Regions from separate parts of the Homo sapiens genome. Here region 1 is linked to region 2. The links come from fine-mapping of genetic effects on gene expression. A gene starts in region 2. The other region holds a variant in brackets. All regions are shown on one strand. Distances are from middle to middle.

Evidence for each region. PIP is the estimated chance that this variant, and not a neighbour inherited with it, causes the effect.
Region 1: its variant is the best candidate, but not a certain one, in a credible set for the expression of TIMP2 in whole blood (TOPMed, PIP 0.51).

Annotation. Positions count from the first base shown.
Region 1 is chr17:78,868,078-78,872,457 of GRCh38, reverse strand. TIMP2 (TIMP metallopeptidase inhibitor 2) reads left to right here. Exons shown (of 5, transcript NM_003255.5): 3 at 1,452-1,560. It overlaps LOC124904068 (a long non-coding RNA gene), which reads right to left. Exons shown (of 2, transcript XR_007065924.1): 2 at 4,228-4,380. Among named protein-coding and RNA genes, the nearest start is that of USP36, 29 kb to the right of the region's middle. The variant C/T (reference allele first, on the strand shown) is at 2,087.
Region 2 is chr17:78,922,836-78,927,215 of GRCh38, reverse strand. TIMP2 (TIMP metallopeptidase inhibitor 2) reads left to right here and starts at 1,829. Exons shown (of 5, transcript NM_003255.5): 1 at 1,829-2,257. The coding sequence starts at 2,128. RefSeq lists an enhancer at 3,600-3,669.

The DNA of each region.
Region 1 (4,380 bases), 55 kb after region 2:
CATTCTTCACCTGGGCAGCAGGTGCGTTCCTGAAAGGCTGTGAGTAAATCACATGTTGAGAAAGCAAACTCTTCTGGCCCATGGAGTTATGTCCTAATTCCTGAGGTGCCTCTCTGCTCTCATTGCCATCAAGTAGACAATATTTGACCAAAATTCCTGGAAATATAGGTTGGGTGGAGTGACTTATGCCTGTAATCCCAGAACTTTGGGAGGCCGAGGCAGGAGGATTGCTTGAGCTCAGGAGTTTGAGACCAGCCTGGGTAATAGAGCGAGACCTCGTCTCTGCTAATTAAAAAAAAAAAAAAGCCAAGCATGGTGGCATGCGCCTATAGTCCCAGCTACTCGGGAGGCTGAGGTGGGAGGATCACTTGAGCCTGGGAAGTTGAGGTTGCAGCCCCAGCCTGAGCAACAGAGTGAGACCCTATCTCAAAAAAATAAAAAATTCCTGGAAATATGCAAAAGTCATGGTCCTTCATGGTGGTCCAGAGTCACGTGGAGGTACAAAAGCCCCTCCCCATAGATTCAGAAATGACCTCTTTGGGGTGGGGGGTGAGGGAACAGAGGTGTTGTCTGAGGATGTCATGCTCCAGATGACAGTCTTTTTTTTTTTTTTTGAGATGGAGTCTTGCTGTCTCCCAGGCTGGAGCGCAGTGGCACGATCATGGCTCACTGCAAGCTCCGCCTCCTGGGTTCACGCCATTCTCCTGCCTCAGCCTCCCGAGTAGCTGGGACTACAGGCGCCCGCCACCACGCCCAGCTAAATTTCTGTATTTTTAGTAGAGACAGGGTTTCACCATGTTAGCCAGGATGGTGTCGATCTTCTGACCTCGTGATCTGCCTGCCTCGGCCTCCCAAAGTGCTGGGATTACTGGTGTGAGCCACTTCGCCCGGCACAGATGAGTCTTGTGCTCACCTGCTGTGATCTGCCACACTAAAAGTTGAGTGACTCCAAAGAATCACTTTGCTATAAGAAGTCTTTTTCTTTTCTTTTTTTTTTTTTTTTTTTTTGACGGAGTCTTACTCTGTCATACAGGTAGGAGTACAGTGGCGCCATCTCAGCTCACTGCAACCTCCACCTCGCAGGTTCAAGCGATTCTCCTGCCTCAGCCTCCCACATAGCTGGGATTACAGGCGCTTGCCACCATGCTCAGCTAATTTTTGTATTTTTAGTAGAAACAGGGTTTTGCTACGTTGGCCAGGCTGGTCTCAAACTCCTGACCTCAAGCGACCTGCCCACCTCAGCCTCCCAAAGTGCTGGGACTACAGCCATGAGCCCTGAGCCCAGCTGGAACGGTCTTTTCCTAACCCATGTATTTGCACTTCCTGGTCCTCTTGGGTGCTGGCTGTACCCCAGCTACAGGTTGTGCCGCCCAGGGTGTTCTGGATGGGAACGGAATTCACCAACTGTGTGGCCTCCCTCTGCTTACATGTCCTCCTCCTTGTCTTTCCAGATGTTCAAAGGGCCTGAGAAGGATATAGAGTTTATCTACACGGCCCCCTCCTCGGCAGTGTGTGGGGTCTCGCTGGACGTTGGAGGAAAGAAGGAATATCTCATTGCAGGTGTGTATGAGTGGGGCCATCAGCCGGAGGCTGGCACAGAAGTGGGGCTGTTCCTAGACGCGGTCCAGGGCTCGTTTCCCAGGCTCGGGGGGTGGGGAGGCGGAGTAGCTGAGGAACAGTGAGGCAGGGTACGGAGCCCTCTCGGCCACTTCCCGTCAGAGAATGCTAGTGAATGTTCACTACCTGCCAATTTCCTGGGAAATTTGAGATTGGTGGACAAAAAAAAGGGAGCATTTTTGCCTTTTGTTCCTAAAAGGGAGGCGAGTGCGGGATGCTGGAGACATGCAGGGCAGAGAAACCCTTTCTGCCGTCGGGAGGGCCAAAAGCTCGCGTAACATCTGTGGATACTATGCACGAGACCTGCTTGACTTATTCATTCATCTGTCTCCTTTTTTTATTGTGGTAAAATAATACGTAACAAAATGTAGCCATGTTAATTAACCATTTTCTTTCTTTCTTTCTTTCTTTCTTTCTTTTTTTTTGAGACAGAGTGTCGCTCTGTCGCCCAGGCTGGAGTGCAGTGGTG[C/T]GATCTTGGCTTACTGCAACCTCCACCTCCTGGGTTCAAGCGATTCTCCTGCCTCAGCCTCCCGAGTAGTTGGGATTACAGGCACACGCCACCACGCCCAGCTAATTTTTGTATTTTTAGTAGAGATGGGGTTCTACCGTGTTGGTCAGGCTGGTCTCGAACTCCTGACCTCAGGTGATCCACCCACCTCGGCCTCCCAAAGTGGCAGGATTACAGGCGCGAGCCACCGCGCCCGGCCAACCATTTTCAAGTGTACACTTCAGTGGCATTAGATACATTCGCTATTGTGCAACCATCACCACCATCTGTCTCCACATCTTCCCAAACCAAAACTCCGTCCCCGTTAAACACTAACTCCCCCTTCTCTCTTCCTCAGCCTTGGCCCACCTCCATTTTACTTTCTGTCTCTGTGGATTTGACTACTCCAGGGGCCTCACATGGGTGGAACCCTGCAGTGTTTGTCCTCTCTGTCTGGCTTATTTCAGTAGCATCATGTTTTCAAGGTTCGTTCACGTTACAGCATACATCAGAATTTCCTTACTCTTTTTTTTGTTTTTGAGACAGAGTCTCGCTCTATTTCCCAGGCTGGGGTGCAATGGCACTATCTCGGCTCACTGCAACCTCCGCTTCCCAGGTTCAAGCGATTCTCCTGCCTCAGCCTCTCAAGTAGCTGGGATTATAGGCACACGCCACCACACCTGGCTAATTTTTTTTTGTATTTTTAGTACAGACAGGGTTTCACCACGTTGACCAGGCTGGTCTCCAACTTCTGACCTCAGGTGATCCGCCCACCTCAGCCTCCCAAAGTGTTGGGATTACAGGCGTGAGCCACCACACCCGGCCCAAAATGTCCTTACTTTTTAAGGATGAATAATATTTCATTGTATGAATGTAGCACATTTTGTTTATTGTTGCATCTCTTTGTTTATAGTTTTTTGGTTTGTTTTTTTTTTTTTTGAGACAAAGTCTTGCTCTGTTTCCCAGGCTGGAGTGCGATCATGACTCACTGCAACCTCGATCTCCTGGGGTCAAGTGATCCTCTCGCCTCAGCCTCCCAAAGTGCTGAGATCAACTACAGGTGTGTGCCACCACACCCAGCTAATTTTTTTATTTTTTGGTAAAGAAGTCTCACCATGTTGCCCAGGCTGGTCTTGAACTCCGAGGCTCAAGCAATCCTCCTGCCTCAGCCTCCCAAAGTACTGGGATTATAGGCGTGAGCCACTGTGCCCAGCCTATATTTTTATTCCTAAGTAAAATTATTTTCCCTTACTTCCTTCTACGGCCTCCTCTGCTTGCCCAGCTAGGCTGAACCACAGGAGGCCAGGACAGGATTCTCAATCTCAGCACTATTAACATTTGGGGATGGACCATTCTTTGTTGTGGGGGCCTACCTTATGCATTATAGGATATTCAGCTGCATCCCTGGCCCCCACCCTCTACATGCCACAGCACCCGCTCCAGTCGCGGGGTCTCTGGACATTGCCACATGTGCCCAGGGGAGGTGGGGTAGATTGCCCCTGCTTGAGAACCACTGGGCTCAAAGAGCTTTCTGCAGTGATGGAAGCGGTCTCTGCACCATCCAGTCCAGCAGCCCCCAGCCTTGTGGCTCATGAGCACCCGAGATATGGCTAGTGCAGCCGAGGAGCTGCATTTTAAATTTTATTTCATTTCAAGTAATTTTAGTATAAATGTAAACAGCCACATGTGGCCGGCAGCCGCAGTCTAGCATGGCACTGACTCAGCCAGTTAAGGAACATTATTCCCCTCCTCCCTGGGGAAGTAGGAATCTGATCACAAACTTAAGAAAAAAAGAATAGACAAGGCCTGGTGCAGTGGCTCATGGCTGTAATCCCAGCAATGTAGGAGGCTGAGGCGGGCGGATTGCTTGAGGTCAGGAGTTCAAGACCAGCCTTGCCAACATGGTAAAACCCTGTCTGTACTAAAAATACAAAAATTAGCTGGGCGTGGTGGCAAGTGCCTGTAGTCCCAGCTACTCAGGAGGCTGAGGCATGAGAATCATTTGAACCCAGGAGGCAGAGATTGCAGCAAGCTGAGATCACGCCACTGTACTCCAGCCTGGGTGACTGAGCAAGACCCCATCTCACAAAAAAAAAAGAGAAAAGAAAGAAGAGACAAGACAATTCCCCTAGCCTGGTACTATAGTTTGTTCCAAAAGGCAACTGTAATCATAAACATATACTCCAAATCCAAATATCCATGATTGGGGGATTTTCTTCTGGTTTAGGTGACATGTACTTTTTTCCCTTCTAAAAATCAATGTGTGCTTAGTGAGC
Region 2 (4,380 bases):
CTTTGGATTTGTCAGGGTGCTAAAAATAACGGCATTGCTTATTTAACTTTTCTCAGAACTGTCTGTTACAAAACATACACAAACAGAAAGAAGCTGTTTTTCCATTCTTTCACTATTTTCCAAAGTTTCATACCTCAAGTCAGCACCGCACAATTTAGTGGGCAATTCTTTTTAAAAAAAAAAAAAAAAAAAACAAAAAAAAACAAGAGTCTTTCTCTGTCGCCCAGGCTGGAGTGCAGTGGCGCAATCTCGGCTCACTGCAACCTCCGCCTCTCGGGTTCAAGCGATTCTCCTGCCTCAGCCTCCTGAGTAGCTGGGACTACAGGCGCGCGCCACCACGCCCGGCTAATTTCTTGTGTTTTTAATAGAGACGGGGTTTCACCGTGTTAGCCGCCAGGCTGGTCTCGAACTCCTGACCTCGTGATTCGCCCACCTCAGCCTCCCAAAGTGCTGGGATTACAGGCATGAGCCACTGCACCCGGGCTTTTTTTTTTTTTTTTTTTCTTTTGAGATGGAGTCTCGCTCTGTCCCCCAGGCTGGAGTGCAGTGGCATGATCTCGGCTCACTGCAAGCTCCGCCTCCTGGGTTCATGCCATTCTCCTGCCTCAGCCTCCCGAGTAGCTGGGACTACAGGCGCCCACCACCAAGCCCGGCTAATTTTTTGTATTTTTAGTAGAGACGGGGTTTCACTGTCTCTACTAAATGCTAGCCAGGCTGGTCTCAAACTCCTGGCCTCAAGTGATCCTCCTGTCTCGGCCTCCCAAAGTGCTGGGATTACAGGCGCAAGCCACCGTGCCCGCCCTGATTCTTCCTGTGTCATTTTCCTGGGCTTCCCTCTCCCTAGCTGGACTGCAAACACTCTGGAATGCTGACCTGAGGGCTGGAGTGCTGACCTGAGTGCAGCAGTGTCCATGGAGCCCCACGGGGCACACACCAAATGTACAGGGTGGGTGCCCACAGCCGGGCACAGGCAGGTTCACAGCCAGGAAGCCCGCCTCACCACCCTACACATGTTCATCCCTTCATATGCCTGGGTCTTTCCTGGAACACAAAACTGTTTTGGGAAAAGTCCTTCGGCTCCCACATTTGTGGACTAAGAGAGGAAACTGTGAGCGGAACCCAGCCAATGCCTCTGCTGCGATCCTACTGGCTCCTGGGCGCCTGGGCCCACCCCCGTCTCTTGTTGGCTGGTCAAAAATATGGCCAGTTTATATAAAATCCTGTTTTGTTCACAGTAACCACACCCCCCACCCCCCAACTAAACTGGCCAGGCGCACTTAAAATTCTAAGGCCTCCATTTGAAAAAGGGATCCTGTCAGTTTCTCAATAGGCCACCCGCCCACAGAAACGGGGAGGTGGCGACAGGGAACGGCCCCTGCTCCAAAGGACACCCCTTGGCTCGCCCCGAGGCTGGGCTCGAAGGGACCCCGGGGTGGCGGGGGACGGAGCAGCGTAGCCCTCCAGAGTCGAGCTGAAGGGGAAAGGGTAGCGGGTGGGTCGCCTGGTGTCCTGGAAGAACGGGGCGCGAGTCCCCCGCGCTGAGTCAGGGACCCCGGGCGCAGAAGGCCACGCAGCGGGGACCGGGGTCGGGGGGCTGGGGGCGTCCGGGGACCCCCGCGCGGGTGCGGGTCGCGGGCGCCAGGTGGTGCGGGAAGCCCCCGACGTGCCAGGCCGGGCACAACAAAAGCGCGGGCTGGGGGGAGGCGCGGGCGGAGGGGGAGGAGGGGGCTGCTGGGAGCGCCCAGAGCCTGCATTGGCCGCCAGCCACCGGGAGGAGGAGCAGAAAATCCTCCGAGCGCAATAAAACTGCGGCCCGGCCCAAGCCCGCAGCAAACACATCCGTAGAAGGCAGCGCGGCCGCCGAGAACCGCAGCGCCGCTCGCCCGCCGCCCCCCACCCCGCCGCCCCGCCCGGCGAATTGCGCCCCGCGCCCCTCCCCTCGCGCCCCCGAGACAAAGAGGAGAGAAAGTTTGCGCGGCCGAGCGGGGCAGGTGAGGAGGGTGAGCCGCGCGGGAGGGGCCCGCCTCGGCCCCGGCTCAGCCCCCGCCCGCGCCCCCAGCCCGCCGCCGCGAGCAGCGCCCGGACCCCCCAGCGGCGGCCCCCGCCCGCCCAGCCCCCCGGCCCGCCATGGGCGCCGCGGCCCGCACCCTGCGGCTGGCGCTCGGCCTCCTGCTGCTGGCGACGCTGCTTCGCCCGGCCGACGCCTGCAGCTGCTCCCCGGTGCACCCGCAACAGGCGTTTTGCAATGCAGATGTAGGTAAGGAGCGGCGACCCCAGCCCCCGCGCGGGGCCCCACCTCCCCCGCGACCCCGAGGGTTCGCAGACGCCCCGCCCGCCCGCCGCTGGCCGAGGGACCCCAGCGCCCGCCTCCTGGTCCCTCGGCGCCTTCTCGAATCCTGCAAGTGGACGCCCAGAGCCGACTTTCTTTCCCCCCTCCCTCCTCTCCCTTTCTTTCCCTCTCTTTGCCGAGATGCGTCTCAACCTCAAAATTCCACCGAAATTCCGCCGCAGCTCCAGCCCCAGGAAAGGGAGCCAGTTTGGCTTTTGGCAGGCGGCGCGCCCTGGGATGCCAGCGCTGGGGGCGGGGAGCGTGGGGGACACGGCGTGGGGGCGGGGGGCTGGAGGACTGGGGACCCCAGGAAGAAACTTTCGCAGATAAGGTGGGAGTTGGGCTTCTCTGGGCTTGGGGCTGGGTGGGGAAGGGCTTCTCTGCTGGGGCTTCTCCCACCAGCCCCATTTGGGGGCTCCCCGATCAAGCCAGGGTGGGATGGAAGCCCGCCCTACCCGAGGCAGGTTCCACAGGCCCAGAGGGGCAGGTGAAAAAGCCGGTGGCGTCTCCTGGCGTGGCTCCTTGCTTGCGCCCTGCCCAGGAGGCCCTGCAAACTGGCTGGGCAGGGACCGGGACCCCCGAATGTTCCGCTTTTTCGGGACGTCCACAAAAGCTGGAGACTTTGGTGACCGGACCCGGCACGTGGGACTGTGCTGCTGCTCAGATTCCCCAGCAAATACCCATGACCTCCGGACTCCTAGCCCCCAAAAGACAGGCGCCATGGAGGGAGGCAGGAGGGGCCCAGTTATTTGTTCTGATCCATGGAGGGGGAGGACCAGCAGAAATGGGAGGAACCCGCTGGCTCGAAGTTTCCACCCTGGTCCTGCACCTCAAGCCTCTGCAGCCCTGGTGCTGGTCAGCATGGTTTTCCTGGGGCAAGTCTGGCTACACGGCAGGTGGTCTCGGAGCCCCCTGCCCTCCTTCCTTCTTATGTCTGAGTCTCAGTCGAGTGACCTGTCCAGGGCAGATGGAGCAAGGCGGGGGCCCCCTCACCTGCCCAGAGTGGAGGTGGGACTTTCTGTTTCTCCTGCTGTCAGCCACGCCCTTCCCATACCCCGCCCACGGCTTCTTGCCCCACCCCGGTTAGCCCTAGGAGCTGCGTGCCCAGCTGGGGAAGTTTTCAGTTGCACCAATCTATTGAGATCACAGGTCTCAGGTGGCTCAGGCCACCTGGGCGGAAGGCTTGGTGTGTGCCTGTGTCAGTTTCCACAAAACCCAGTTTGGGGGAAATGAGGTCTTTTCTCCAGTTTAGCCTTGGTGCTCAGCAAGATTTGTGGGTGAAGGAGAGGTTCCTTTGATGAGGGAGCCATAATGGGCCTTTCTCTGGGGGTCCACGAGGAGTGCAGGCCTGTCCAGGCTCCTTGGCTCACCAGCACGTGCTGGGGCAGGATGTAGCCAAGGCCCAGAAGGAGGCTGTGGATAAAAGGACCTGGGAGTTGGATTTGTAGGAGTTGGGCCTTGGGACCCCTCCCCCTCCCGCCCCCCCCCCCACCCCGCCCCACACACACACTCCTCAGCTGTGTGGGAGAATGTCCAGGCAGCCACTCTGTCCTTGCTTGGCATAAGTTAAGGCGGCCACTGAGCTGGGAGCTGTTTCTGCGTGGGGTGTGGATCCAGGATGGCAGAGGGTGGAGGGCTGCAGTGCGTGCCTCCCGCCTCCTTCATGCTCAGCGCAGCACTCTCCTCTTCTGGGTTGCCTGGCATTTGTGTCTAAATCTTTGCATCAAAATCATCCTGTAGCTAAAACTTTTCACCCCATCCCGGCTCAGAGGCCCAGTCAGATGCCAGAGTTGCACTGCAGAGCTCAGGGCATTCGCTTCCTGTGGCCGCTGTGACAAACTACCACAAATGGGAGGGCTTAAAAGAACAGGAATCGATTCTCTGTAGCTCAGGAGGCCAGAAGTCTGAAAAGGTGTCCACAGAGCCAGTTCCTTCTGGGGGCTGTGAGGGAGAATCTCTTCCAGGCCTCTCTCCTTGATGTTGCTTGGTTCCATTTTCAAGGAACACATCACTTCCATTTCCGCCTGTCTTCACATGGCCTTCTCTCGTGT